Linked DNA regions of Homo sapiens. The protein of the gene in region 2 interacts with the protein of the main gene of each other region in a pairwise test. Each region holds a gene or a part of one and is shown on either strand. Other genes may lie near its edges.

Region 1 (12,049 bases), on a different chromosome or scaffold from region 2:
CTATCCCTCCCTCTTTCCTCTCATTTCCACTCACCTAAATCATAGCCCTTCTTCAAATACTTACTTTAAACCCTTCTACTTCCACATGAGTTTCTGACACCATAAAACCAAACAGGCTTGATTATATTTTGCCAACTCTCTTAGTTATCTCCCCTGTGACTTACCTTACTCTATCTACTTTCTAGAATATTTACTTGTGCAGTATTGTTAACCCCTTGTTCACTCCTGGATGGTAGGACCTATGTAGCTCTTACCTCTAATGCCTTACAATATTTTGCATGTCACAGGCAATCCCATAGAAGTATTGAACTGAGATGTAGGGCACTTTTGGAATTAAATTTCTACCTTTCAAGCCATCTATGTTTTAATATTATGCCATCTATGATTACACTAGAATTCTAGAATTCTCTCAACTTCCAACAGAATTTAATATACAGTCTTTAGGAACATTTTGTTTTTCTTGAGATATATCAGTATAAAGTTTAAAAGATTAAATAATCTCTTAAAATGAATGCCTCCTTAAAAATAAAAATAGGCCGGGTGCGGTGGCTCACACCTGTAATCCCAGCATTTTGGGAGGCCAAGGCAGGCGGATCATGAGGTCAGGAGATCAAGACCATCCTGGTAACACTGTGAAACCCCGTCTCTACTGAAAATACAAAAAAATTAGCCGGGCGTGGTGGCTGGCGCCTGTAGTCCCAGCTACTCAGGAGGCTGAGGCAAGAGAATGGTGTGAACCCGGGAGGCAGAGCTTGCAGTGAGCTGAGATGGCACCACTGCACTCCAGCCTGGGCGATAGAGCGAGACTCCGTCTCAATAAATAAATAAATAAATAAATAAATAAATAAATAAATAAATATAAATAAATATTTTTATCCTCAACTCCTCCAAAGTACTTCGCAATGAAAAAGTGAAACAGGGGCCAGGTGTGGTGGCTCACATCTGTAATCTCAGCACTTTTGGAGGCCCAGGTGGGCTGATAACCTGAGTTCAGGAGTTCAAGATCAGCCTGGCCAAAATGGCGAAACCCCATCTCTACTAAAAAAAAAAAAAAAAAAAAAAAATAGCCAGGCATTGGTGGCACGTGCCTGTAATCCCAGCCACTCAGGAGGCTGCGATGGGAGAGTTGCTTGAACCCTGGAGGCGGAGGTTACAGTGAGCCAAGATCGTGCCACTGCACTCCATCCTGGGTGACAGAGTGAGACTCTGTCTCAACAACAACAACAAAGGAAAAAGAAAGGAAACAAAATAGAACATGGAGTGAAAGCAACAGCTTACAAAAATACAAAGACACTAACCACTTTTAGGAACTCAAGTCTATATAATCCAACTGAAATGACTGAAACCCTGTGACATGAAAATGGAAAAGATTTGGGAATATTTTCAAAAGATAAGGGGTTTAGATCAAAATTTCAGAGACTGAATGTTCTAACATGATATAGAATCAATTTCAGGAATGAAACTTCATGAAATAAAATTACTTAAGTCCATAAGAACTATTCTATATAGGCAATCAACAGGCTATCTGATCTCACATAATGAATGCTTAGGTTTTGTTTTTCATTTTAAGGGTTTATTTGCTCAGTTTATTTCCAAATATAGTTTAGTAGTTTTACATTCTCAAGGAGTTATTTGGTAGCAGTGGAATACAGATTCCAATTTGCTACATCAGTTCTTTCCTTCACATAAGTATTGTATCTATACAGATTGTGAAAGAGACCAATAAAAACCCTCCTCCTACCTCATAGTTATAGCAGGAGTGTCCTGGCTCAGTGCTGGAATCTGACAGAACCTTCCCTCCAATTCCCACATTAAAGGAAAAATTCCAAGCCAAAAATGTTAAAATGATTCAAGTTATTAAGTTAATTTACATTTTATACTATTTTTAAATGACCAAATTTACCAAGAAACCAGAACTAAAAAAAATTATAATCCTCAGAAGGCAACCTTAGTAAGTAAAAACTAAACAGATATATTTGCATATATCAGATAAATGAACAGAACATTAGCGGGGCAGTTACCTACATCTAAAAAAAAGAGAATCAAAAACTAGCATGAACGTAAACTGGAAATTAATGTGTCTATTTAGATAGTTTCATTTTAACTGGAAACTCACAATAATCTATATGTATGTTTAAGAAAGATGGCTACATTTAAGATGTAGTAAAGATGAAATACAAAGACACAAACACTTGTTGCCAGTAAGTCCGTGTAATCAAATTATTCATAGTGAAATACATTGAAAGGCAAACAAGTCTTCTTTGGTTTGGCAGGTTTTCTTAACTCTTTGTGGAGCTACCTTGTACAACCATTCAAACAACATAAGATTTATTCATTTTGCATACAATGTACTTCTTTTTTCCCTAAGAAAGGTACACTTTCTACTACTCAAGCCAATTTTTTTCTAGTTTTCTTTATGTAAGTGTGAAAAAAGAACAGATGTTTTTCCAAAATTATTTAAGCTTGGAAGGCATTCTATCATTTTCCTCAATAAAATACTTCAGAGTCACCCAAAGCATCATGGCAATACCTTAAGAGCTGAGTCCTTTAAAATACAAGTTATTAGTAAGAAATCAGTATCAGGACACACAGTGTTGTTTGATAGATAAAATGTTATTATAATGATAGATAAAATGTTATTATAATGGGATGCTGTAAATTATTTGCCACACCAGCTTTATTTTCCACTCTGGACCTTTTTCGTTTGTTTGTTTTTCAATCTAGATATTCTACAAGTCATGTACAAAGAGGCTTTTAAACTTATCACATTGTATAGCTCATTCCCTACTGCCTAGAATCTTGTAAATCTCTGATGGAATGTGTAACTGGAGTTATCAGCTGGCTTCAACATGCTTCACTATGAAACCTATTAAAGTGGTCTTTTTGTAAAAGCAGAGTTTGCTCTGTGTCACTCAAAAGTCCTGCGGATACAAAAATGAGATCCTATGAAATGTTTAAAGATGCAGAGAGCTGTCTTTGAGTTATTTTTTCATTATGCAAAACTTGGCCCAGGAGAGATGGTCATGTACCTCGTTAGCTAAAACAGTCAGGCATGTCAGGATTGCAAATTAATTTACCAGAGAAAGTTGAAGTTTATTCAGATCACTCAGGTTTCTAAGGCAGATCTAAGTCTGCTGAACTATTAGGGCAATTTGGTAAGGTCAGAATCTCAGAAATGTTTATCCTTATTGTCTCTTTCCAACTCCCTCGCAGAATACAAACTCCTCCCTAAACTAAGCCTGCATGAACAGCAAATGTTCCATGGGAATCAACATGTATAGGTATAACTCTAAGTTTTCAAAAGTAGTAATTGGTACATGCTGTGATTCTCCCCAAAAAACATCCAATAAATACAAATAGAGATAATCAAATATTTACTTTCTCCTTATATTAACTTGTTGTATTTATGAAGTGAAGGGTTTCGATGGACCTTGCATTATTACGTAACACGTGCCATCCAGCCAATGTGATTTCGTTAGTAGTAGAGTAAGCAGCAATATCCTTGGTTTTATCAATTACGTTATTATCTATTAATTTAAAATGCCGTTCTTTTGGGTGCTCTCCCACATTCTGTTAACCTCATGTTCCTGTCGCTTTACTCTCCATATGAACTCTGAGTTGAGTGTTGTATAACAAGTTTCATTAAATTTTTCCCATCCAAGTTATGAAGCCCACTAACATCAGAATTGCACAGTTCCCTAAAAGGCTAGAACAATGCCAGAGTGGTTGCATTAGAAGCCAAGAGTAAGGCAAACAATGGGTCCACGTTTTAAATAAGATAAGTGTGCTTATCTGTATCTGACCCTGGAAACAAGCAACCACCTCTTGGGAGATGGAGATGCTCCATTAGTAACATTATGCACGTTTCTTAAGTAAAATAAGCAATCTTCTCCCTCATATGTTATGAAAAAATATTTCTTCAAAATCAACAGACTAGTCTTCCATTTATGGATTGTAAATGTCATCCAATTCAGGAAATCAAAAATTCTTCCTTTTTCTATGCCTATTTGCTTATGTTTCACACTTTGATGATGACAAGAACGTCAGGTTTGAAGGGTACCAGCGTGAAGCGCCAGCAGGTAGAGAAATCCGGGAGAGCCACAAAAGCATAGAAAGTATGGGTGATCAGACGCATTTCATTTCAAGTCTGATGAGCCTGCATTTAGGATTTTCCAGCTGGGCTGGTTTGCCAGGGCTTTTGGGAGACGGGGGCTTTTTATTTCTTCTCTCACACTCACACACACGGTCGGACACACACCTGGGACGTGTTCAAACTCTACGTACACTAGGTGGCTTATACGAATGTATATGTATATTTAAAAATAATACCTTGACATCTGACAAAGACACGAAGGCAACGTATGTGCAGTGAGTCTGGCTCTGAGAAACGTGCACAGCCCCGCAAGAAGTGCCCGTTAAAATGAAACATTTCTGAGGATGAGGACAGACATGGCAAGCGGGAGGGGCGGGGGCCGACAGACAATACAGAGACCCGCAGCTCCCCATCGCCAGGGCGCCACATGGACCCGGCGCGTCACCCCTGCTTACTGTGGGCTCTTGGGGTAGAAGGGCAGGGTCACATGGCTGAGATCCTGGATGTCGAAGGCGGTGGGCTCGGCGGAGATCGCCTGCCGCTTGGTGCGCGGCTCGCCCTGCAAGGTGCTCGCGCTCTGCTTCTGCGCCTGCTGGGTGGCTGGTCGGATCACCGAGCGGTACTTGTCCAGCTCGTTCTGCAGCTTCTGGATCAGTTCGTCCTTCTGATCCAACTCCAGCTCCAGCTCGTCGATGAGAGCATCCCGCTGCCTCAGCTCCTCGATCTTCTCCTGGAGCGCGTACTGTAAATCCCGCAAGGTGCCCATGCTCCTCCGGGCTGCCGGGGGCTCCTTCCTGCCGCTGCTCCGCGTCTTGAGGCTTCCTCCCCTCTCCGATCAACTTTCCCCAAAGTCGCCGCTGCCTCCCGAGTGCCAAAGCTTCCTACTTGAGACCAAAGCCAGCCCTGGCTTCTGAGCATGCCCAGTCCGCCGGCTCCAGCCACCCAGAGTTTCAGTGCAGATTCCACTTCTCTGGGCTGGCTGTGAGGCTCAGAGCGGGGAGAGCAAACCAGCAGGTCCAACCCGGGATTAAACCTGAGACGCGGTGGGCGCCGCGGCGCGGGGGAGAAGAGTCGGAGGCGCGGTGGCGGGGGAGCGGGAGGAGGGGACGTGAATGGGGGCTCCGAGGCAGCGGCTGGGCTCTCAGAGTCCCTCGCGCCGGGCGCCCAAGGAAGCTTGCGGGGCGTGCGGGGAGCCTGATAAGCCTCCGAGGCGCGCCGGGGGTGTGCGGGTGGAGCGAGGCGGGAGCGCTACTTCGGGGGTGGGGAGGTGGGAGGGAGGGGACAGGGAGGACCCCGGGCAAACTCGGGAGGCCTCAGCTGACTCCAGAGCAGACCAGCCTGGAGAATGTTGAGCTACGATCCTAGCGACGTACGAGGCATAGGGGACTCTGCATCATCAAAGCTCTGAGTTCTGGAGGTATTTTGACGGCCGGCCTCACTAAGGAAAGCTCCCGAGCGGTGTGGCCGAGCTGTCGCTTCTCCCACGCCACCTTTCCCACCCAGAGCGCCTCACACAGGTGGCTAACGCTTGCGAAGAAACTTGCCTCTCAGGAGATGCGAGCGAGTCGGCGCCCGCGAGGAATTCCCCCTTTCAGCCTACTACCTTTGGGAAAGGGTTGTGGGGTAGGGGGTGGGGTTTCCGATTTTAGCACCCGAGGCGTTGCTACTCTTCGCCTGCTCCAGATAGTTACTTTCCTTTCTGCCCCTTCCAAACTCTCATCGGGGAACTGTTTTAGGGCAAAGGCCAAAAACGGATTTGGGCCCTAGCAGGTCACTCAGCTTCCCCATGAGCCCTCCGCCTTGAGCTGGTGCCTGGGAATAGTTCTCGGATGGGCCTTGCTTCTTCCATTTGCTGAATTTGGCGGGGAGAGGGTGGGGGTTAAAAATCATTCCCGAGCTCCAAAAATTTCATCTTGAAACTGAATCATACCTTTAAAAATATTACTTTCCTCACAACCAAGCTGTTAGGAATGTATCTTTCCACTTGAATGGCCAGGAAGACATCCTGACACAAACTTTGAAGAAGAGGGAAAATCGTGAAGGAGCGAGGGAGACCACGCAGGCTGCAGTGAATTGTACACTATACTGCAGTCACCCCCACCTCTACCCACTCCCACCCTCATCCCTGCCCACTCAATATTCCCCAAAATGATCACAATTAGGTAACTTCCTTTCTATCCAAGTGTTACACTCCCATCATGGGAACACATGTTTAGAATCCCCAAATATCTGCCTAATACGTACCTAAATCCCTAATATTTGCTTAAGACATTACGAACTCATCCAATTTTATAGCATCTTTATTGGCAGATTTTTGATTACTATTCTTGGGCACTCAATATTATAATCCTCAATGCTCTATTTGGTTATTCCTTAACACTAAAACAAAGTGGACAGAAAATAAAATTGAATTGCAATGCAATTCTAAACTTAGCAAAGAATAGTATCAAAATAACTTGCACACTGTTGCTTTTGAATACACAACTTTTTGTATTTAAGCTAGAGACAGAGGAAGGGAGGAAAGGAGGGAGGGAGGTCAAGGTATCTTAACAAGCTTGTTCATTTAAAGTGTCCTTGTTTTTAATTAGAGGACTAAATGACAAAATATATAGTCCTAAATATTCTTTTATGTAGATTATGATCTAGTAATTCTCTTAATGCAGATTACACAAGACACTTCATTTTTCTGCTTTCCAACACAGACTTTCAGAAGTGCATTTATTTCTAAATGTGATATATAAAATGGATCATTCTCAAAACATTTTCTTTTGCAATGAAGAAATGAGCAACTTACAAATATTGAAAATAATAATAGCTCTGAATTACTGTTGTTTTAATTAAAAGTAAACCAAGCAGAAGTACTGTGACTTTGTATAACTCACTGTATTCTAAAAAAGCTTCCATGAAAATTTCCTTCTTCTGGGCAAAAGGCCAAATTCTTATTTAACCTGTGGGAATTCTTTATTTCCATGGGAAAATGTTGAATACAAAATGACTTTTTCCTATAGATCTATTATTGGGGTTCATGAAGCCATGAGTTTATGTCTAAAAATATACCAGATACAATGTATAGAGGACATAATTAGACAACTGCTAAGCTGGGTTCAGAATTCCAGGATTTTCTCTTTGTTTTTTTTTTGTTTGTTTGTGTGTTTGTTTTTGAGACGGAGTTTTGCTCTGGTCACCCAGGCTGAAGTGCAGTGGCGCAATCTCAGCTCCCTGCAACCTCCGCCTCCTGGATTCAAGTGATTCTCCTGCCTCAGCCTCCGGAGTAGCTGGGACTACAGGCACCCGCCACCACGCCGGCTAGTTTTTGTATTTTTAGTAGAGACGGGGTTCACCATGTTGGCCAGGATGTTCTCGATCTCTTGATCTCGTGATCTGCCCGCCTTGGCCTCCAAAAATGCTGGGATTATAGGCATTAGCCACTGTGCCCAGCCATCTCGTTCATTTTTAAAGTGAAAACAAATATTTTAAATACGTTTTTCATTGATGTTTTAGAGTTTATTTAGGGTTTAAATGGGGTTACTTAATGTTTTTGAGCAGCACAAAGAGAGAAGGTTCTTCCTCATTTGTAGAAAGTCTGTCTACATGTACAAAGGAAAATAAAAACTAAAACACTTTCCCCAAAAATAAAAAAACCAAAAATATTTAGGCATTTTGGAAAAAAGTGAGTTTTTTTACACTAAATTATGTAAATACTTATCAGTATTTAAGCTGGCATATCTAAATGCAACTATAGGATGTATACACATTACATTTTCATTTTAAATTTACATCTCATGATATAAAATCTGTTCCAGGATGAATCTGATATTGAGAGTCAGGAATCTGTTATAACAAACACAAATAGAGTAAAAAGCTGAAAAGACATGACTTTTACAATTGACTTTAAAAGGTGTTCAAGGAATAGAATATATTTAGTTATCTCAGGCTGTGTTATTTTTTTAAATTGACTTCCCCTTAAATGCTTTATAATTTCATATGCAAAATCCAGGATTCTAGCCTTTTCTCTTTCATTTTTAAAGTAAAAATAAATATTTTAAGTATGTTTTTCAATGATGCTTTTGACCAGCTGTTTAGATCTTGAGCGACCAGGTTTCCATCTCAACCTTTTGAGTGTTTCCAATATTTTCTTAAACATCTTCTGCGTTGTACTTAGTAAATGCTGGAAATAAACCCTATGTGAAAAATCAAAGTCCTGCAATTACGTCTTAACAGACAAATTATCTTTACTAAGTGTCATGTAGTAAACTTAATTGGCTAAATTACAAGATCAAAGATCAGGCACAAGTCTACTTTCTGCTAATTAGGAAGTGTCTACCTCAGATTCCTTCAGGGATAGAGTAGAGGAGAATGGCTTGATCTGAGCCCTGCCCCACTGCCTATCTGAGATGAAGCTTTGACATTAGATGCTAACAGTTAGAACAATGCAATTTTGAAGGAACTGACTTCATACTCTAGAATTCCAGAAACAACTCACAACCTGTTTTTCAGCAGTCTTCCTTTTTCATAACTTTAATAGAAGCAAAGTTCTACTGGTAGCCAGACCAAACTGTGGCCTGTTGAACTCCAACATGCTCTTTAGTCTTGCACCCAATCCTCATAATTGAGAATAAAAACTGACATGCCTTCCTTAATGGATTCTCAGAATCATTTAATGAGCTATTCCAATAAAGTAGCTTTATTATAATACTGGCTATTCAAAAATAAATCTGTAGAATTTGTCATCCTTCACTAAAAACATAATTAGCCCAAAAGAACTGTGCTAATTTTATCCACTTATCCATTCCACTGACACTGTATTTCCTGGAAGAATCTTAAGTTTTGAAATTTTCTTCTGTCATTTCATGTGTATATCTTGAATGGGAAAAAATAAACAAACAAATATATAGCTGAGCCTTTCAGGAGACAGAAGCTTCCTCTGGCAGAAGATTGCTAAAAGTAACAAGTCCTCCTAGGAATCTAGATTTTAAAGCTATTACTGGCAGACATGACGGTCTGTTCTAAGTTGCTAATCATAATCAAGATCACAAAAAATTAACTAACTTCCTTGACTTCTTAATGCATGATAGGTATTGTTCATACAACCCTATAAGTTCAATATTATTAATATTCTATTAATATTAGAGAAAATGGAGTCACAGAATCATTCACCTAATCAATGGCAAAGACTGGCTTCATATCCAGACTAGGTGATGTAGAGCTGAGGCCCCTACCCCTCATTACTTTCTGCAGAACTTATAAGTGTTGCTACTGTCCTATTCTGTATCCAGAGAGAGAAGAGTGTCTTTAACATCAACTTGCTTGACTTAGGGGTCAGGGAGGTGAAGAGGACAAATTTGGAAAATCCTGAAAGAGCAGCAACAAGGTTTTCAAAAAGTTCCTTTTCACAAAACAGTCCTGTCTTTATTTCAACAAGATTACATTCTGGCTCAGGGTAAGTAACTTGAACCCATTTGCCAGAGATTGTACTAATCCTAAAATTGCTTGAAATTGTCCTGTCTTTAAAACTAAAAGTTCTAAGAATCTTCCAGTCTCGGGCAAACCAGGAGAGTTGGTCACCCTATTCAATTCAAAATATCTGAGCTTCTCTAGTTTATAAATATTTTCAAATTTTGCTTTCCACATTACTGATAGAAAAGTAAAACCAAGGAAGATCTGTAATGATAATACCTATTATTTTAGGCACATTACAAACCCACTTATACATTACTTTGTGTTAATATGTTTTAGGAAAGCAATCATCCTATTGCAATGAATAATAATGCACAACCGGAACTGTCTTTGGACTATAAAGGGGGATGAGTCAGACAATAGAATTTTAATTATACTTTGATAAATTAGACAATAATTCAAGGATCCCTTTTTGCTTTATTGTTTTTACAGAAACTGGAACTTACATTGATTCCCTGTGAATTAAGTACAGGGATTCAAGTGCCTGCTATTTTATTAATTCCTATAGAACTAGTTTTATAATTGTGTTTAGTGGATAGATTTGGCCATAAGGAATATATATTTACATGGATATAAGTAAAAATTGAAATAGTTTGGCTGTTTTCAAGTTATACTATTTCAAATGGTAAGTTCTGCGTAGAAAAGAAAAAAATAATAAACCATTAATGATGAAAAACTTACTGCAGAGACTTGGAAAGTAACAGCGTACTGTACCATAATTGCTAATGTACTTAGCATTTAATACTGAATTAGTGTCATGCTTAATATTAGGTGAAATGAATTTTTATAGTCCCCTTCTTAAGATGACGGGAAGTTATTATTGGGTCTCAGGCTAAACTAGTTCTCATGAAAACTCATGAGCTATCTAACAAAATGAATATTTATTTGTACTCTTTAGTCAGCTGCTCATTTACAATAGCCAAAAGAAAAAAAATCAAGAAAAATATTAGGTTTTTTGTATTTTGAAATAAGTGTAAAATTTTTAAATGCATAAAATAGAATTTAAAATGCTTTATTCACAAGACACCATTTTACTGCATTTGAAGCGTAATGAATATGTACATGAGCATGCAACATACCTGTATGATAAATAAGTTAGAGTTGCTCAGTTCCATTTCAGTGATTCTTCTGGTATATTAAATGTGCATCTTTTACTAAGGTAAATCATCAATATTTTCCACAAAATATTCTAAAGTATTTTTAAAAGTAATTTTGATTCTGAAAACAGATTTGATATTGTGGGGCTTATAGAATAGCTCTCTAGTCCATGATTTGTCTTTTTTGCTGTTGTTTGTATTTTAACTAGTATTTAGCAGTTGATATAACTTGGCCATTTTCTTCTTACAGGTTTTGTAACCAAAATTTAAAGTAAAGAAAACTGAAGTTTTGCTAGCAAACTCTTTAAAAATAATAAGGTAAGAAAATACTAAAGATGTAAGAAGGACAATGAAATAGAAATTTGGGTGAATTGAATTTTTATTAGTAGGTCAAATGACTGCATTGGGCAAGAGAAAGATGTCAAGAAATTTATTTACATTGTGAGAATGTCAGTGATTCAAGGGAGAGGGGGCTTTGCAGGCAAAAAGACATAGTAGGGAAATACATGGAGATCTCCACTCTCATTAACTTAATGGGCATGTAAATATCACCTAGCTTCAAATTAAGGAATCTTCAAATTGTGACTTTTCTATAATCATCATGAGATGGAAATCCAGAAATCCACTTTTCTAACGACAGGCAAATGAAATAGTAGGCTAGTAAAGCAAATGGATATCATTCCAGGGCCAAGATATTGCCACGTATTATTCTTGAAACAAGGGTAGAAGCCCCAGGCTGGGGCCCAGGAGATGCATACATTCACTATGTATTTGTAACTAACTACAACATTATCATTGGCCTTGCCTAATGTAGGTTTTTAGAGAAGATTCAGTAATTCCTTCATGGTCTAGACTGGATTTTTAAAAATTCATTATTGAAAGCACAGGCATTTAATCTGGTAGGTAAAGAATAAATATTAGTGTTCCAGATTTAAACTTAAAAGACAAATGTTCAAACACCTATATAATGAAGAAGTTACCCAAAGCAGCAATATCTAAAGTATCATATAGTTTCAATGCACCATATAAATAAATGTACAATAGGAAATTTCACACTTTTTTGATATTAGCACAAAATAGTGTCTGTCTAGAGTCACTGTATTACATACAAATTTTTTACTCAAAGAGTTAATGTAGAGAGTCATTATGGAAAATTCATCTAATTTTTCCCCAGATTATAATACAGCCAAAATTCTAATCATCTAGTTTCTTTAGAAAATCATCTATGTTGACTACAACTTTTAAGTGGAAAAAATAACAGGGAAATCTTCACAATGTTTATTTGTGGAATATTAAAAGCAATTGCTGCTGTTAGGAACATAGAGAACTTAGTGAAAATTGCTTACTTTCATTTTCCAGTTTCCACTGGTTAGACCCTCCATCAGAAAACAGCAAGTAATAT
Region 2 (11,602 bases):
GCTTCTGGTCTTCATCCACCCCAGTGAGGCTATCGCAGAAGTGAGTGCCACCACCTTCCTCACCTGGGATGTCCAAGTTGTCAAGTAAACTGGCATCCTTCCTTTCCAGTCCTTCCCCAGTGCCTCCGCTCTCTTTATCACCCTGGAAATGGGTCTCATCCCTCTCAAGCCCACATTTGTCCCCTTCAGATTCAGCCTGCAAACAGTCCCCATCACTTTCCAGGTTGCCTTCAGCCCCATGAGGACTTTCCCCTGAAGGGTCTTGGGGAGACTCCAGGCCTTCATTGTCTTCTAGCTCCCGGGTCCAGCTCTCCGCTGCCAGGAGTTTGGCTTCTCTCCCACCGCTGGCACCGCCAGCCCGCTTCCGATGCCGCCTGCTCCGCCGCCGACTGTGCCGGCGCAAGTGGTTCTTCATGGCAGCCATGGTGTGGAAGTGCTTGGCACAGGCCCCACAACTGAAGTCTCCTGTCTGGTGGGTCTGCCTGTGGTTGATAAGGCTGCCTGAGTGGCGATAGCTCTTTCCACAGTCTCGGCAGGCAAAGGCCCTAGGAGGTGACATTGTGGTCTCTGTTCTGCTATTTTCCTTTTCCCCTGCCCCATGAGTCAGGCCATGACGTTCAAGGCTCTCAGCGTCTTCAAAGAGCAGCCCACAGATGCTACAGATATGTGCTGCTGTCTTGTCTGCTGCTGGGGTGATGTCCGTGGCCTCTTCTTCATGTTTGCACACATGGTCCTGATCTGTGTGCGGGGCTGCCTCTGCCTCCACTGGGTCAGGCGGGAGTTCTACCTTGAGGTGGCTGGGGGCACCCTCAGCCCCGATGTCTGCACTTCGGCGAGCAGCCTTGCAATGTACCCGCACGTGGTTGCGCAGGGCCATGAGATTGGGGTACTTGCGGGGACAGAGTGAGCACTGGTACTCTCCAGTCCGATGGCTGTGGCGATGGTTCACCAGGCTCCCCCGGTGGCGGTAAGCACGACCACACTCACTGCACTTATAGGGCCGATGGTCCAGGGTGGTGGTGGGGTCCTCTTCCTCTTTGTGGGTGGTCTCAGCCAGCAGCAGGGGAGCTGGTGGGACTGATGGCTGCCCATTTTCCCCAACTCCTTGCCTGGGCCTGTGATGAGCCCGCACATGGTTTTTGAGGGCAGCCGCATTGAACAGCTGCTTAGAACAGAGTGAGCAGGGGTAGACACCTGTCTGGTGGCTCTTTCGATGGTTGATGAGGCTCCCAGCATGGCGGTAAGTACGGCCACAGTCCCCACAGCGGAAAGGCCGGTATTCCTCCAGGCCACTGTCCTCCAGCTCCCCAGAGGTGCTGAGCTCCGCAGAGCCATTCAGCATCTGTGCACTGGGGAGCTGGTCCTGGCTGCTCTCATCTGTGTGCCCATTGGTGGTGGGCATCCCTTTCTCCTCCCAGCGTGGCTCCTGCCTTTCACCCTCATGGGACTGCTGGTGTTCCAGCAGCTCCCGGGGGAGCCGGAAGACACGGGGGCAGTGGGGACAGTGGTAAGGCCGATACTGGGCATGCAGTCGAGAGTGGTTCTTCAGAGCCATGAGGTTAGAGAACTCCTTGAAACAGATGGCACAGGGGTAGATGCCCAGCGTGTGGCTCTGGCGGTGGTTGGTGAGGCTCCCGGCGTGCTTGTAGGTCTTGCCACACTGACTACATTTGTACCGCCGCTCCTCCTCAGCAGGAGGGGACTGGGTGGGCTCCTGGCCCCCTGTGAAGTTCACTACTGATTCAGCCAGATACTGTTCCAAGTTGCTAAGAAGGCTGCTGGCTGGGATGGGGAGAGGAGGGGCTCTGGCAGAGTTAGTGGAGGGTCCCCAGCCGTCTGCACCATCCTCAGGACCTGGGTGGCTTGCCAAGCCTTCTCTTTGTCTGGTGGGCAGATCTTCCCACGTACCCGAAGCTGCCCTGGGGTCAGGTACAGATTCACAGTCAGGTGTCTCTTCTGTATGTTTTGTCTGGTTTTCCCAGCCTTCACTAGAGCCAAGCCTTTGGCCCCAGGAGTCAGTGGACACCGTCTCACCCTGGAGGTGTGGAGTGGCTTCCTTGGGGCGTGGGGGCCTGTGCCTGCGGCGGCCCTCAGGAGCATGTGTCCTCATATGGCTCTTGAGAGCCATGGGATTGGAGAAGTCCTTGCCACAGGTGGTACAGGGGAAAAGGCCAGTCTCGTGGGTCCGACGATGGTTAACCAGGCTCCCGGGGTGACGGTAGCCCCGCCCACACTGCTGACAACGGTAGGGCCGAGGGATGCTGTCAGCCTCCTCACTGTCCTGGTTGGGAGATGGATGGAGCAGTTCTCGGTGCCGAGAGAGCTCTGGGAGGCTGGGAAAGTGGCGCTGACAGTCGGAGCAGCTGAGTGAGGGGGGTGTGTCCTCCATGGGGCAACGTAGCAGAAACCTGGAGGTTCAGAAGGAGCAGACACGTGGCAGCACCTTCCTCTGGTGGAGGGGCCAAGGCCTAGGAAGAGGGGGCAGTGGTCAAAAGGAAGGCCTGAATTAACTTCGCCTCTTGGCTCTACGAGCAACAAGTTCACCTGAGGTCACTGAGAGGTTCCCCAAGCATCCATGCCCAAGGACCTAATTTCTACTAGATCCAATCTGCAGGCACCATCATTTAAGGCTTCCCTGTGCACAAGCTTCCCAAATATAGGAGCTCCCCTAGGCTTAAGTCATCCCTACAGGTATAGCTAAGGAAATTAAAGTTGAGAGAGATGCAACCTACTTCTGATCACAGACCTGTTATGTTCTTCAGACCAGACTCAAAAGGCATTACTGTCCTTTAAGAACAGTAGGAATCTGCTCCCTACAATCCTGAAACAAAAATTTTCTGTGACATCTTAAAAGGACACCAAAACCTTCTCTAGGCCTTTCAATAAGAGAAGTCCAAATCTTCCTACTTCATCTCTCAGCTAAACAGAGTAGCTGAGAAGCACTGAAAAAGCAGCTGTTTCCTCCAGTTAATAGCTGAGGACCTGAGAGGAGAGGTTAGAGGCCTCCTTCAGGGAAAGGGCTGGCTTGTTCCCCCACCACCCCGAGTCATTTCAGTGTCACAAGGTCTCTTTTCCTTGTGACAAGAGAGTTAAGAGAGTTAAGACTCTCTTAACTGGGCCAGGTGTGGTGGCTCACGCCTGTAATCCCAGCACTTTGGGAGGCCGAGGCTGGTGGATCACCTGAGTTCAGGAGTTCAAGACCAGCCTGGACAACATGGTGAAACCCTGTCTCTACTAAAAATACAAAAATTAGCCGGGCGTGGTGGTGGGCACCTGTAATTCTAGCTACTCAGGAGGCTGAGGCTGAAGAACTGCTTGAACCTGGGAGGTGGAGGTTGCAGTGAGCTGAGATCCCACCACAGCACTCCAGCCTGGGTGACAGAGCGAGACTCCATCTCAAAAAAACAAAAAACCCCAAAAGACTCTCTTAGCGACTTCTTTTATCTACTTCCCTTGAACTCAAACTATCTTCCATCTTGGGAATAACATCAATACCAGGTTGTAATGTCACTTCATTGCCTACCTTTTCTCTCCCATGCCTCCTGATCTTACCCTCACCAGTCTTTCTCATTTTTTTCTTCTGCCTCCTCTCTTAATACTGATGATGACAGCAACTCATGAAGAGTATTATATTACCATGTGCCAGGCACTGTGCTAACTATATTCATTGTGTTACTCAATCCTCAGAACACACGGCAATGCCTGTTATTCTAGTTCACGTAACAGCAAACCCCCTGACTGAGGCGGTCTTCATCCCAAAGCCCTTGCTCTCTCATGCCCCCTACATCGTCTTGTCCTTCTCCAACTCTGACTCTTCTTCCCATGGGACCCCAGTACAACTGTCTCCGACCGTAAACCCCTTCACTGAACCTGCCCCCGGAATTCTCACCTCACAAAGCCCCTTTGATCAAAAGTCCCCTCCCCTAGTCAACCACCAATGAAGTCCTCTGACCTCACTCATCTCGTCTGCCAATTTCCTCTCAGGACGCCTACCTCGCACCGGCGGCCCCCTCTCCTTCCCGCCGCGGGCGCGTCAGTTGGGGACCGCGAACAAGAGCGCGCCTGCGCACTGGGACCCTTACCCTAACTGCAGCCGCGCGCCCCAAGGGGTGGCTGTCGGGGGGCTCTCGCGCTCCCACACACGCACACTCAGCCAGGGTTCCCGGGAGGTGGGAGGGAAGGGAAAGAGGGAAAGGAGAAGGGGGGAAGAGGAAGGAGGTAGAGAAAAGAGGGCGCAGCTGGCATGAGCCAGGAGTCTACTCCCAGCTCTACGGACACTTCCTATTGTTACTAGGAAACAGGAAGTGTCCTTAGGTGCAAAAGCTTCCCCGCGAAACTTCCGCTTCGGGAGCACTGCCTGTCCCGCCTCCGAGCCGCAGTTTTACGCAGACACACTTCCGGCGCTAAGTTCTAGGTCTGCACGGCTGACTCCGCCCACGTAGGTCACAACGCGGCGTCTTTGCACGCTAAGCTAGCCACACTTCCGGCAAGAGCAGCTAGAATCGTTCCGGTGCATATTGAATAGGCGCAGAAAGGGAGAAAAAGATTCTACAGCCCTGGCCACAGTACTTTGGTGACACTTTTCGTGGGGCTCTCTGGAGGACTTTTCCCAAGGCAGATGGAGAAAACTTCGTGAAACCCACTCCTTGCTATTAAAGGAAATGTTGTGGAATATAATTGGACTTAGGTTTTGCAGAGCTTGAGCATGGCCTTTTTGTCCTCCCACCTTCTGGTTCTTGAAGACATTGCCGGTGACCTGGCCCCAGACTAACACAAGGCGGGCGTATACCGTCAGCCTGCCTGGCGTCCCCTTGCCTCAGCACACACAGAGACCTCTTGCAAGATGCTTCTCTGCCGCCATAGGCTGGAGGTTCCCCGGGAACTTTCCCTTCCTTCCTAGCTGAGGAAGATCCCTCACTTCCGCTCGCCGCGCCACCGGTCCCACCTCCCCGCCCCCCGCTGGGTCCTAGCGCCGGCCCCTGTTTGGCAGGGTCCGGGCTCCGTCGGTGCGAGGAGCCGACGCCGACGCCACGGAGTCAGCACAAGTCTCATCAGGTAGGAAACGTCGGCGGGAAGCCGCGAGGGCCCCGGGCAGCTCCCACGCGGCCACGATCCGAGCTGGCCTCAGTTTCCCTGCGGGCGCCGAGGGCGGGCCGGGTTGGCCCAGCGCGAGCAGCGCGGGCGGGGCGGGCTGTGAGCGGCCCCGGGCGCATTGCGGGCCCAGCAGGTCCTAGAACCCGCCGGCTGTCTCCGCGGTTCTGGGCTGCGGACACCCAGGCTCGGCCCGCGCGGCTGCTGGCCCGGCGCGGTGTGGTCCCGGGGGTCCTAGAGCCCGCCATGTTTTGGGTTTTTGTCCCGGTCGCGTGGCCCGCGCTGCAAGATCCCAGGCGCCGGCGGCCCCCTCCCCTGCTGAGGCCCGGCCACCACTCCCGCGGTCCTAGAGAACGCCATCTTGCAAGCCTTTGTCCCTCATTCGGCCTTCCGTCCATTCATTTGTTCATCTCCTCATCCTTCGTTCAGTCCTCCTTGCCACGTCCTCCGAAGCCACGTTTTCTGAGGCTTATAACCGGGGTCCTGCCCTCCAGGGGCTGCCTGGCTGGCGGGGGCGCCGCGTACAGACGGTTGCGAGGAGCGAGGAGCTCCGGGTTTCTGCAACTCTCGGCTCCTCGGCGCGCTTCGTAGGCCCCACCGCCCTTCAAACTCCCACAAACTTAAGGGACCCCATTTTACTGATGAGGAAACTGAGGTCCAGAGCGGCGTGGGGCCCTTACCTCTCTACTGCCATAAAGTATTCCTGAGGGCACTAGGGAAGGGGGTTCTTGAAGGATGTAAAGGGGCTTTCCCGTTGGAGAAGGCAGGCAAGGGCTCCCCGAGCCCAGGAAACTGCATCTAGAGGTGGAGGATTGAGAATTGTGGCTGGAGGTTCGGTCGCTGCCGGGAGGAGGACTCTGTCGCTGGAGCTGAGGCTGGAAAAGTAGGTTGGGATCAGGTTGTGAACTGGCCCGGTAGGAGGCCTAGGATATGATTAGCGCTCACTTCTGCAGGGTTCATCCGCTCACTACGTCACTCCTGGCCGTGAGGCCTGTGTGGTGACTGCTTGTTTAGAGATGGGAAGATTGAGGTGCCTCCTTTTTCTCCTCATCCCTGCCCCAGGGTCCTAGCCTAGGATTTTTGGAAATTGAATCTTTGCTTGCCTAGTGAGACAGCAGAACTTCATCCCCTTCCTAAGCCAGTAGTGAGGCAAAGCAAGGCTTCATCGCCACGACAGGGAGCCCACTGTGGGATATTGGGGCAATAGTTGAGCCTTGTGGAGTTGGAAAGGTGGAGGAATTTAGTTAATAAACAGTTATTGGTGGACATTCTCACAAACTCCTACTGTGGAGGAGGCAGAGGCTACAGACCTGGGTTCAAATTTCATCTGAGGTTGGTTCTTTCCATTTGTTTTGGGTCACCACACAGGGTTCTGGGTGTAGAGGAGGCAGATGATCGGTTTCCTAGCCCTTTGCCAGCCTGGACTCTGGTGCTGGTGATGAAGAATTAACAGCCAAACCATAAGATGTGTAATGCTAGCAAAGCAATAGTCAGGGCTCAGAGAGCAGGTGTTTGGGATTTGAACACTGGCTGGGACCGTGACTAGTAAGCTTGTTTCTTTGTGGTGTCACTTCTCATAAGAACGCTAATCCTACTGGACCAGGGCCATACCCTTATGACGTCATTCAGCCTTAATTACTTCCATAAAGGCCTTGTCTCCAAATACAGTCACAATGAGAGTTAGAATTTCAATATATGAATGGACAGGGAACACAAACATTCACTCATAATGAACTGCTAGGCAGCTGTGCAGTTGGCTTGAGTAGTTGAGTATTATGCACAAAATGCTTAGAATGATACCTTGCCCATGGTAAGCTTGCAAGGAGTATTGTCCAGATGACACCATAAAGGAAATTAGAGAGGAGGGGTGCTGGTCACTGTGGCTCATGCCTGTAATCACAGCACTTTAGGAAGCCATAGTGGAGGAGCATCTGAAGCCAGGAGTTCTTGAGACCACTGTCGGCAGCGTAGTGAGACCTCCATCTCTATATACAAAGAATTTTTAATAAATTAGCGAGGTGTGGTGGTGGGTGCCTATAGTCCTAGCTACTCAGGAGGATTGCTTGAGTGCAGGAGTTTGAGGCTGAAGTGAGCTATGATTGAGCCACTGCACTCCAGGGTGACAGAGTGAGACCCAATCTCTAAATAAAAATAAAGGCCAGGCACGGTGGCTCACGCCTGTAATCCCAGCACTTTGGGAGGCTGAGGCGGTCGGATCACTTGAGGTCAGGAGTTCGAGACCAGCGTGGCCAATGTGGTGAAACCCTGTCTCTACTAAAAATACAAAAGTTTGCCAGGTGTGATGGCTTTCGCCTGTAGTCCCAGCTACTCGGGAGGCTGAGGCTGGAGAATCACTTGAATCCGGGAGGTGGAGGCTGCAGTGAGCTGAGATGCAGCCACTGCACTCCAGCCTGGGCAACAAAGACTTTCTCTCAAAGAAAATAAATAAATAAAAATGAAATAAATAGGCCGGGCATGGTGGCTCAAGCCTGTAATCCCAGCACTTTGGGAGGCCAAGGTGGGTGGATCACCTGAGGTCAGGAGTTCCAGACCAGCCTAGCCAACATGGCCATCTCTACTAAAAATACAAAAAATTAGCTGGCTGTGGTGGCAGGCACCTGTAATCCCAAATACTTGGGAGGCTGAGGCAGAAGAATTGCTTGAACCCAGGAGGCAGAGGTCGCAGTGAACTGACATCACACCATTGCACTCCAGCCTGGGCAACAGAGGGAGACTCTGTCTCAAATAATAATAACAATAAATAATAAAATAAATAAAAATAAGCCAGGCACGGTGGCTCATGCCTGTAATCCCAGCACTCTGGGAAGCCGAGGCAGTGGATCATCTGAGGTCAGGAGTTCGAGACCAGCCTGGCCAACATGGTGAAACTCCATCTCTACTAAAAATACAAAAAATTAACCAGGCGTGGTGGTGGATGCCTGTAATTCCAGCTACTCGGGAGGCTGAGGCAGGAAAATCTCGTGAACCGGGGAGGCGGAGGTTGGAGTGAGCAGAGATGGTGCCATTGCACTCCAGCCTTGGCAACAAGAGTGAAACTCTGTCTCAAAAATAAATATATAAATAAAAATAAAAACATTTTTTAAAAAGTAAAGAGGGCTGGGTGCGGTGGCTCATGCCTGTAATCCAAGCACTTTGGGAAGCCAAGGTGGGTGGATCACTTGAGGTCAGGAGTTCAAGACCAGCCTGGCCAACATGGTGAAATCCTCTCTCTACTAAAAATACAAAAATGAGCCAGATGTAGTGGCGGGCGCCTATAATTCCAGCTACTCGGGAAGCTGAGGCAGGAGAACCGCTTGAACCCGGGAGGCGGAGGTTGCAGTGAGCAGATATTGTGCCATTGCACTCCAGCCTGGGGGACAGAGTAAGACTCCGTCTCAAAAAAAGGGCCGGGCGCGGTGGCTCACACCTGTAATCCCAGCACTCTGGGAGGCCGAGGCGGGCGGATCACGAGGTCAATAGATCGAGACCATCCTGGCCAACATGGTGAAACCCCATCTCTACTAAAAATACAAAAATTAGCCGGGATTGGGCCGGGTGCAGTGGCTCACGCCTGTAATCCCAGCACTCTGGGAGGCCGAGGCAGGTGGATCACGAGGTCAGGAGATTGAGACCATCCTGGCTAACACAGTGAGACCCTGTCTCTACTAAAAATACAAAAAATTAGCCGGGCGTGGTGGCGGGCACCTGTAGTCCCAGCTACTCAGGAGGCTAAGGCAGGAGAATGGCATGAACCCGGGAGGCGGAGCTTGCAGTGAGCCAGGATTGTGCCACTGCACTCCAGCCTGGGTGACGGAGTGAGACTCCGTCTCAAAAAAAAAAAAAAAAAAAAAATAGCCGGGCGTGGTGGCGGGCACCTGTAGTCCCAGCTACTTAGGAGGCTGAGGCAGGAGAACTGCTTGATAGATAATCATGAGATTCCGTCAAAAAATAATAATAATAATAAAGAGTAGATAGAGAATGATTATCAGGGGTAAAGATAGCATTGAGAAAGGTAGTCATTCAGTGCTCCTTGGTTGGTTAAAAAAGGAAAAAATTTGGAATATTAAAAGGGGGGAAGAAAAGGAAAGGTGGTCAAGAAAGCTCTTTTTGAGGAGGTGACTGGGAGCTGAGATCCAAATAACACCAAAAAAGACAGCTACACAAAGATCGTGGGAGAAGAGTGGCTCAGACAGAGGGAACTGCTAGTGCCACTGCCCTGAGGTGGGAAGGAATTTAGCTCTTTGAGGAGAAGAAAGGAGGCCTCTGTGGGTAGAGCCCAGTGGGCCAGGGAGAGGAGTGGGAGGTGAGGTAGGCAGGTGTGTGTGTGTGTGTGTGTGTGTGTGTGTGTGTGTGTATTTTTAGTAGAGATGGGGTTTCACCATGTTGGCCAGGCTGGTCTCAAACTCCTGGCCTCAAGTGATCTGCCCAGGTAGGCAGGATTTAGATGGTTTGGGGCTATGCTGGCCATGGAAAAGATATTGGTCTTTTTCCTGGGAGCAGTGGGAAGTCTCATGATTCAACCTGGGGGAGAGAATGGAGACTTGGGTTCGAGTCTGGCTCCTTGACCAGCTGTGTGTCCTTGTGTACAGTTTTTCCTTTGTGGGGACCTTAATCTCAATATCTGAAAAAGAGGTGTAGTGAACACTTAAAATGCTCCTCTCCTGAGAGCTCGTGGAGACCTAAGGATGTGTGTTTGGTTCTTAAGTATTGGTTGGGCAGGCACGGTGGCTCACGCCTGTAATCCCAGCACTTTGGGAGGCTGCGGTGGGAGGATCACTTGAGCCCAGGAGTTCTAGACCAGCCCAGGCAACATAGCAAGACTTCATCTCTACTAAAAATAAAATAAAAATTAGCCAGGCATGATGGTGCATGCCTGTAGTCCCAGCTACTTGGGAGGCTGAAGTGGGAGGATTGCTTGAGTCTGGGAAGTCAAGGCTGCAGTAAGCCATGACTGCACCACTGCACTCCAGCCTGAGCGACAGAGTGAGATCTTGTTTCAAAACCAAACAAACAAAAGTATTGGCTGGAATGATCCAGAGTGTATTTAAAATACAGATTCCTGAGGCCTACCTCAAGCTCTTTAATAAAAAAAAAAAAAAAAGTCTGGGCGTGGTGGCTCTCGCCTGTAATCCCAGCACTTTGGGAGGCCGAGGCGGTCGGATCACGAGGTCAGGAGATTGAGACCATCCTGGCTAACACAGTGAAACCCCGTCTCTACTAAAAATACAAAAAACTAGCCAGGTGTGGTGGCAGGTGCCTGTAGTCCCAGCTACTCAGGAGGCGGAGGTTGCAGTGAACCAAGATCGCGCCACTGCACTCCAGCCTGGGCAACAGAGTAAGACTCCATCTCAAAAATTATATATATATATATATATATATATATTTTTTTTTTTTTTTTTTTTAATGGTGGGATGTTAGACAGAGACCTAGCCTACCTGGCCTCTTTGTGTAGCTGGGCGCATGCTGAGACCAACCTGGCACTCCCCTACCTTTTCCCCTGGGAAGTGCCATGGGAGGAGGGATTTCCCCTCCAGCTACCTGGTGTCTAACTCACAGATAGGAAGGCTGAGACCCAGAGCTGGCAAGAGGCAGTAGAAGGGCCAGAGCTCAGAACCACTGGGTCAAGCCCTCTGAGAGGGAAGCAGAGACATAAAGGGTGCCGGCCAGGGTCTCAGGGCAGTTCTGCAAGGATGAGAGAAGACACAGGTATGACCTGAGCTCAGGGTTCTGGTCACTGTGGGGCTGGCGGAGGCAGCAGACAAGCGTAAGAGGCCCCAGACCACTGAGCAAGACCCCAGCAACTTAAGGCAAATTAAACACCTGGACTGAAGTCCCAGCTGCTTAGGTTACCCATTGTGGGACCATGGGCAAGTCACTTAACTCTTGGAACCTCGATTTATTCCTCTGTAAAGTAGGGACAAGAATCCCTATCTCAGAAAGGTATAAGACATTAAATTAAATAAACCAGCACACCCAGCAATGTGTCTGGCTCTAAGAAGACGCTTTGATAATTGAGGACAGTAATTATTTTTGACTCATTCATTCCTCACCCAACTCTGTCAGGTAAGTACTGTCATTATCTCCATTTTTCAGATTAGAAAACTGAGGTTCTAAGACATGCAGTACATTACACACGGTCACATCAGCTGGGAAGTGATGGAGGCAAAATCTGAAGCCAGACAGTTTGGCTTCAGGGACTGGGCACTTAACAAAATACTGAACCATTTCTCTGGACCTTGGTTCCCTTATCTGTGAAAATGGAATAATAGAACTTTCCTCATGGGGTTGCCATGAAGGGTAACTGAGCTAATACACATAAGGAGTTTAGGATACTGCCTGGTATTTGGCGAGTGCTCAGTAAATGTGAACTATCTTTTTTATCATTTATTTATTTATTTATTTTTGAGATGGGGTCTCACTCTGTTGCCAGGCTGGAGTGCAGTGGCACCATCTTGGCTTACTGCAACCTCAGTCTCCTTAGGCTCAAGCATTTCTCCTACCTCAGCCTTCT

The links.
Region 1: the proteins of ZNF646 (region 2) and PRKG1 interact in binary tests that used the Homo sapiens proteins (3 or more experiments, as listed by UniProt).

What each region holds. Positions count from the first base shown.
Region 1 is NC_000010.11:51,067,401-51,079,449, reverse strand, and holds the start of PRKG1 (cGMP-dependent protein kinase 1), read right to left. Parts: upstream 4,964-12,049; 5' UTR 4,860-4,963; coding exon 4,549-4,859; exon of another isoform or gene 4,338-4,548; coding exon of another isoform or gene 4,330-4,337; intron 1-4,329. UniProt on the Homo sapiens protein: Serine/threonine protein kinase that acts as a key mediator of the nitric oxide (NO)/cGMP signaling pathway. GMP binding activates PRKG1, which phosphorylates serines and threonines on many cellular proteins.
Region 2 is NC_000016.10:31,067,112-31,078,713, reverse strand, and holds the start of ZNF646 (zinc finger protein 646), read right to left. Parts: upstream 4,293-11,602; 5' UTR 4,083-4,292; exon of another isoform or gene 3,953-4,082; intron 2,469-3,952; 5' UTR 2,390-2,468; coding exon 1-2,389. UniProt on the Homo sapiens protein: May be involved in transcriptional regulation.